Homo sapiens: one gene and its partner. The protein of the gene in region 1 purifies or fractionates together with the protein of each later gene. This does not show direct contact. Each region holds a gene or a part of one and is shown on either strand. Other genes may lie near its edges.

Region 1 (3,500 bases):
TTGAACACTCCAAGAGTCTCATAACTTGCTTTATTATATTTATTTATTTATTTTTTGAGACAAAGTCTTGCTCTGTCACCCAGGCTGGAGCGCAATGGTGCTATCTCGGCTCACTGGAACCTCCGCCTACCAAGTTCAAGCGATTCTCTTGCCTCAGCCTCCTGAGTAACTGGGACTACAGGCGCGTGCCCCCATGCCCGGCTAATTTTTGTATTTTTAGTAGAGACGGGGTTTCACCGTGTTACCCAGGTTATCTCAATCTCCTGACTTTGTGATCTGCCTGCCTCGGCCTCCCAAAGTGCTGGGATTACAGGCATGAGCCACCATGCCTGGCCTAACTTGCTTTATTTATTTATTTATTTATTTTTTATTGAATTTTTTTTTTTTTTTTGAGATGGAGTTTCACTCTCCTTGTCCAGGCTGGAATGCAATGTGCGATCTCTGCTCATTGCACCCTCTGCCTCCTGGGTTCAAGCAATTCTCCTGCCTCAGCCTCCCAAGTAGCCGAGATTACAGGTGCCCGCCAGCACGCCTGGCTAATTTTTGTATTTTAGTAGAGACGGGGTTTCACTATGTTGGTCAGGCTGGTCTCGAACTCCTGACCTCAGGTGATCCACCTGCCTCGGCCTCCCAAAGTTCTCGGATTACAGGTTTGAGCCACCGCGCCCGGCCTATTTATTTATTTTTGAGACAGGATCTTGCTCTGTCACCCAGGCTGGAGTGCAGTGGTGTAATCCTGGCTCACTGCAGCCTCCACCTTCCGGGCTCAAGTGATCCTCCCACCTCAGCCTCCCAAGTAACTGGGACCATAGGCTTGTGTCACCATGCCTGGCTAATTTTTTGCATTTTTAGTAGAGACAGGGTCTCACTGTGTTGCCCAGGCTGGTCTCGAACTCCTGAGCTCAAGCCATCTGCCCACCTCGGCCTCCCAAAGTGCTGGGATTACAGACATAGCCACCATGCCTGGTCTCATAACTTGCTTTAGAGCATACCAAGTGGCTGTAGTTTTGCTTTTTTCCAACTTATCAATAGGATGGAAGCATGTATAAAAATGGGACTAATTTATCAGAACTTTTTATTGATTTGGACACAACTAGAGAATGGGACCTTATATCCACCAGACTGGAAGTGGGTTCAAGAGATTAAAGCTCAGCCAGGCACGGTGGCTCACACCTGTAATCCCAGCACTTTGGGAGGCTGAGGCGGGCAGATCACAAGGTCAGGAGATCCAGACCATCCTGGCTAACACAGTGAAACCCCGTCTCTACTAAAAATACGAAAAAATTAGCTGGGCGTGGTGGCGGGTGCCTGTAGTCCCAGCTACTCGGGAGGCTGAGGCAGGAGAATGGCGTGAACCCGGGAGGCAGAGCTTGCAGTGAGCCGAGATTGCGCCACTGCCCTCCAGCCTGGGTGACAGAACGATACTCCGTCTCCAAAAAAAAAAAAAAAAAAAAAAAAAGAGATTAAAACTCATGAAGAAGTGGGATTTGGATATACTTTATTTTATTTGTATTTATTTATTTATTTATTTATTTTGAGATAGAGTCTTGCTCTGTTGCCCAGGCTGGAGTGCAGTGGTGTGATCTTGGCTCACTGCAACCTCTACCTCCTGGGTTCAAGCAACTCTCCTGTTTCAGCCTCTCAAGTAGCTGGGACTACAAGTGCAGGCCACCATGCTCGGCTAATTTTTTTTGTTGTTTTGTATTTTTAGTAGAGACAGAGTTTCACCATGTTGGCCAGGCTGGTCACGAACTCCTGACCTCAAGTGATCCGCCCGCCTTGGCCTCCCAAAGTGCTGGGATTACAGGCGTGAGCCACTGCACCTGGCCCTGGGTATACTTAAGATTGACGTGCTCCTCTGGAGTATATCCAGGAAAGTGTGAAGGAGAGGAAAAAAAAAAAACTAGGCTGACATAAAGCAGTGCTAATTGAATAGTTGGATAAGAATCTCCTGAGAGAACAGAATGTGCAGGAAGATACTGGAGTCAGGACCTTGGTCCACAGCAGCAGGAGACCCTGATGTGGAAGATGGTACAACTTGATCAGAGTGGAAGATGGTACAACTTGATCAGAGTGAAAGACTGGAGATTAGGTTGGAATTCTCCAGAAGGCCAGATTTTGGATAGAATGTTGTCATGACAATTTACCAAGGTCGGAGAAGATTGGGTTGGAGTGTTCCAAGAATGCTGGATTGGAATGTTGTGCTGGGAGGAGCTAACGGACTGGAATGTCCCATCAGAGCCGACAAAGACCTGAGAAGGGTGGTTTTCCAGCATTTCTTCTCAGAGCCAGCCCCGGGGTTTGGGAAAGGGGCTTTAGAGGTCACTGAGGGATATGAGGGACTGGAGGAAGTGATAAGCAGGCCAGGCAGGCTCCAGTCTCCCAGCGAAGCAAGGTAGGTCCAGTTTGCTCTGTCCTCCCTGTTTGGTCGCCATGTGAATTTGCCTTGAAGGAGAAGCAAGGGTTCTGGTGCTGAGTCAGCCAGTCCTTGCATTAGAGGGTGCCCCATCTTTGGGATATGTGGAAGCTCAGGAACCTGGTTCTGAGGAGGAGCCAAGCCTGGGGTTTGTTCCCAACTGGTGGTTCTCTGCCCTCTCTGCCCCCAGCTGCCTGTGTCAGGGAATCTGCTTGATGTGTACAGTAGTCAAGGCGTGGCCACACCAGCCATCACTGTCAGCAACTCCTGCCCAGCTGAGCTGCCCAACATCAAACGGGAGATCTCTGGTAGGTGATAGGGTCTTGGCCCCATGGCCCTACACTTTACCCCAGGTGAGCCCTGTGCCTACCAGGTCTAGAGATGGGCCTGATTCTGAGGGGAATGGTTTGGACATATGGAAATGGAGGCTGTTTGTCCCCTTTCCCCCTATGGCTTGTGGTCTTGCTTTCACCCCACTTCAGTTCCTCTCGTCTTGGATTTAACAACCAGCCTATCACCATGGCTTAAAATAGTAAAAAGAAGGCACTTTTTAAAAAAGGCATTTCCCCTGCTTTTGGCTACCAAACCCTACCTTAGTATCTGCATGTGTTTCTTGCCTTCCTGTGCTCAGAGGCCCTGATCACTCCACTCTTTTCCAGAGACCGAGGCAAAGGCCCTTTTGAAGGAACGGCAGAAGAAAGACAATCACAACCTAAGTAAGCCAGAGAGCGTGTGCATTGCCCGGGTGCTGTGCAGGCCTGCCTCACCCCGAGTCCTGGCCCCCCATGGGGAACTCCTTCCCTGCAACAGCCTCCCAACTCCCTACTTTCTGTCTCTTCCATTTTTGGCTAATTGACAACTCTTTCTCCCACTCTTTCTTCCTCTCCTCCCCTCTCCAAAGTTGAGCGTCGCAGGCGATTCAACATTAACGACAGGATCAAGGAACTGGGCACTCTCATCCCTAAGTCCAGTGACCCGTGAGTCTGGGCTGGGACCCTCAGGCCAGCGGGAGGTGGGGCAGGCGTCCCATGCTACTAAAATTGTGCCTTGGTGGGCTCACCAGGCAGTCTCGGCCCAGGCATTT
Region 2 (3,500 bases), on another chromosome or scaffold:
CCATCTCAAAAAAAAAAAAGCTGGTCAGGCTTCTCCCTAACATCAGCTTCCTCTGTGTTCACGCTGCCTTGCTTTCGAGGCCTCTTCTCGTGGCTTCCCCAGTGTTCTGATTCTGCCTTCCCTTCTTACAGGCATGGAAGTTGTAAAGGTTGGAGGTCCCGTCTACAGGATTGGAGTTGGAGGTGGAGCTGCTTCATCTGTGCAGGTGAGTGGGAATTGCTAAAGGTGCAGAATCCTTGATATAACCGGGCCCCAGGCATAGGGGAGCGTATAGGAGCTTCCAGTCTCGCTGAGCTGAGCTATGCCATATATGCCCCCAGGTGCAGGGAGATAACACCAGTGACCTGGACTTTGGGGCTGTGCAGCGAGGAGACCCGGAGATGGAACAGAAGATGAACCGTGTGATCAGGGCTTGTGTGGAGGCCCCCAAGGGAAACCCCATCTGCAGCCTTCATGATCAGGGCGCTGGTGGCAATGGTGAGGAAAGGAGTTGGAACAAGAGACTGGGCCTGCCTGGTATCCTGCCAGGTTTCGTTTAGGGAGAGGTATCAGGAATCTCCAACCAACCACCCAGCTCTGGGTCCCATTCTCCATGCTCTGTACATTCTAGACAGGTTCAGGGTTGGAAGGGTGGAAGCCTGCTGCCGTGGGATGATTGGTGGTAAGGGTGCGGCAGCAGTTGACACAGGAACACACCAAATTACAGGCCCCTTTGGAGGCCAGGGACTGCCCTTTGTTGCCTGACCACCACTAGGTCACTGCTTCTCCTTGCAACCCTCTCACCAGGCAATGTCCTAAAAGAGCTGAGTGACCCAGCTGGAGCCATCATTTACACCAGCCGCTTCCAGGTGGGTCTCGTCCCCTGAAGTGTGACATTTTCCCACCCCTGCCAGCCCCAGCCCGCTTCCACCCATCTCTCTTGCAACAACATGAGACGTGGGAGTGCCCACTGGCCCTTCTCTTTCCTCCCCGCCGTGGCTGTGCAGCTTGGGGACCCAACCCTGAATGCCCTGGAAATCTGGGGGGCTGAGTACCAGGAATCAAATGCTCTTCTGCTGAGGTCCCCCAACCGGGACTTCCTGACTCATGTCAGTGCCCGTGAACGTTGCCCGGCTTGCTTCGTGGGCACCATCACTGGAGACCGGAGAGTGAGTTGGCCCAGGGAGTTGGGAGCAAACACTGGGGCAGACATGAGCCACCTGGGTATGGGCTAGAGGGAGAGCTGTCAAGGGAGAGAGACGAGAGGAAGATGGGAGGTAGTGGCAAACAAGCTGTGGGGAATGTTGGATCCAAGGAGGGGCAGGGACTCAATATGGAAACCAAACAAGGAGTGGAAAGCACATTTGTGCCCTGATTTCTAGGAACATTCCTTGCTGGTGTTCATAGTCTCATCCCCTCTGGGTGGGGTCCCTGTGGTCTATAGATAGTGCTGGTGGACGATCGGGAGTGTCCTGTCAGAAGAAATGGCCAGGGGGATGCCCCCCCGACACCCCTGCCAACCCCTGTGGACCTGGAGCTCGAATGGGTGCTGGGCAAGATGCCTCGGAAGGTATGTGGGGTTGAGGGGATGGGTTTTTCCTGTGGTCCTCTCCACACCACCCTTTACCCTACGTGCACTTTGTCGCCTGTGTGCCCAGCCCGCCCCAGGTGTTCACACTGCCTGTCGCTGTCTGTGTTGCAGGAGTTCTTCCTGCAGAGGAAGCCCCCCATGCTGCAGCCTCTGGCCTTGCCCCCAGGGCTGAGCGTGCACCAGGCTCTGGAGAGGGTTCTGAGGCTGCCCGCCGTGGCCAGCAAGCGCTACCTCACCAATAAGGTCCTCCCTGCACCCTTCCTCTGCCCCCTGCCTCCTTCCTCCGCTCAGCCTCTTCTGCCCTCCCACCCTTAGAAAGTGCTGTGGGGGTTTTTGCCTGGCCCTGCAGGAAGCAGCAGGGGCAGGGCAGCCACCCTGATGGCCTGGTCTCCCTGCTACCCACCTTCTAAGTAGAGCTGTTGTCTGCATTGGGGGAAAGACAGGCCTCCCACTGCCCTGAGTGCCTTGGGGGCATGTGCGGGAGCTCAGGCTGTCCCTGTCCCTTGCTCTCTTGCTAACCCCACCTGGTTCCACAGGTGGACCGCTCTGTGGGAGGCCTGGTGGCCCAGCAGCAGTGCGTGGGGCCCCTGCAAACTCCTCTGGCAGATGTAGCGGTTGTGGCACTGAGCCATGAGGAGCTCATAGGGGCTGCCACAGCCTTGGGAGAACAGCCAGTCAAGAGCCTGCTGGACCCAAAAGTCGCCGCCCGGCTGGCCGTGGCCGAAGCCCTCACCAACCTGGTGTTTGCTCTGGTCACTGACCTCCGGGTGAGTTCTCCCACAGCTTCTATCCTGGAGCCCCCGGGCTTCAGGACCCTTCCACATCCATCTGTAGCCCTTCATTTCATGTTGCAACCTCCCAGTCCGCCTGCACCCCTGGCCTCTCCACATTTCTCTTCCCCTCTAATGCTGTGCCTCTGCCACCCCCAGGATGTGAAGTGTAGCGGGAACTGGATGTGGGCAGCCAAGCTCCCAGGGGAGGGCGCAGCTTTGGCGGATGCCTGTGAGGCTATGGTGGCAGTGATGGCAGCCCTGGGTGTGGCAGTGGATGGTGGCAAGGACTCCCTCAGCATGGCTGCTCGGGTTGGCACTGAGACCGTGCGGGCTCCTGGTGAGGTGTGGGAGCCCCAGGGAGGGGAGGAGGAACTATGGAGCTGGGTTGGCAACTCATTCCTTTGGACTCCTCCTTGCTCTACAGGGTCACTGGTCATCTCAGCCTATGCCGTCTGCCCAGACATCACAGCCACTGTGACCCCAGACCTCAAGCATCCTGAAGGGAGAGGTATGGACATGGCCCCATCCTTTGTGATCTTTGCTTGTGTGATCTTTGTTTGGCTCCTGCTTTGTGAGTGCTGGGCCCCCATCTCAACACTGGGCTGTGGTGTTTTCTGGGACTGATTGTCTAGGTGTCTCACCACATGCTGGGAATAGCAGTGCTGTGAGCCCCTCAGGGATGGGTCCTCCTGAGCTGTTCCCCTCCCCTCACCCCTCCCCGTCTCCCCAGGCCATCTGCTCTATGTGGCTCTGAGCCCTGGGCAGCACCGGCTCGGGGGCACAGCTCTGGCCCAGTGCTTCTCCCAGCTTGGGGAACACCCTCCAGACCTGGACCTTCCTGAGAACTTGGTGCGGGCCTTCAGCATCACTCAGGGGCTGCTGAAAGGTGAGTGAAGACCCCTGGGGAGATAGCGCACAGGGTGCCAGGCGTGCAGCAGGCGTTCACCATCTGAGCAGTGGGGCAAAAGGGACTCCAATGGACGATGTACCCCAGATCCCCTGACATTCTGACACACACTCTTGATGGACTGACTCCGGAAGGTGGGGTGGGGCTGTCAGGTTTGGGTCCCGAGGTTGCTGAGCTTTCTTCTCCTTCCTCCAGACCGCCTCCTCTGCTCAGGCCACGATGTCAGTGACGGAGGCCTCGTCACATGCCT

Evidence for each region. The genes of interacting proteins can lie anywhere in the genome.
Region 2: the proteins of TFE3 (region 1) and PFAS purify together in Homo sapiens (affinity purification with mass spectrometry; one large-scale study listed by BioGRID and IntAct). This does not show direct contact.

The regions. Positions count from the first base shown.
Region 1 is NC_000023.11:49,033,358-49,036,857, reverse strand, and holds part of TFE3 (transcription factor E3), read left to right. Parts: intron 1-83; exon of another isoform or gene 84-2,395; intron 2,396-2,606; coding exon 2,607-2,724; intron 2,725-3,075; coding exon 3,076-3,132; intron 3,133-3,317; coding exon 3,318-3,393; intron 3,394-3,500. UniProt on the Homo sapiens protein: Transcription factor that acts as a master regulator of lysosomal biogenesis and immune response.
Region 2 is NC_000017.11:8,262,789-8,266,288, forward strand, and holds part of PFAS (phosphoribosylformylglycinamidine synthase), read left to right. Parts: intron 1-131; coding exon 132-205; intron 206-320; coding exon 321-477; intron 478-786; coding exon 787-848; intron 849-986; coding exon 987-1,148; intron 1,149-1,423; coding exon 1,424-1,549; intron 1,550-1,681; coding exon 1,682-1,813; intron 1,814-2,106; coding exon 2,107-2,337; intron 2,338-2,499; coding exon 2,500-2,680; intron 2,681-2,767; coding exon 2,768-2,851; intron 2,852-3,073; coding exon 3,074-3,229; intron 3,230-3,445; coding exon 3,446-3,500. UniProt on the Homo sapiens protein: Phosphoribosylformylglycinamidine synthase involved in the purines biosynthetic pathway. Catalyzes the ATP-dependent conversion of formylglycinamide ribonucleotide (FGAR) and glutamine to yield formylglycinamidine ribonucleotide (FGAM) and glutamate.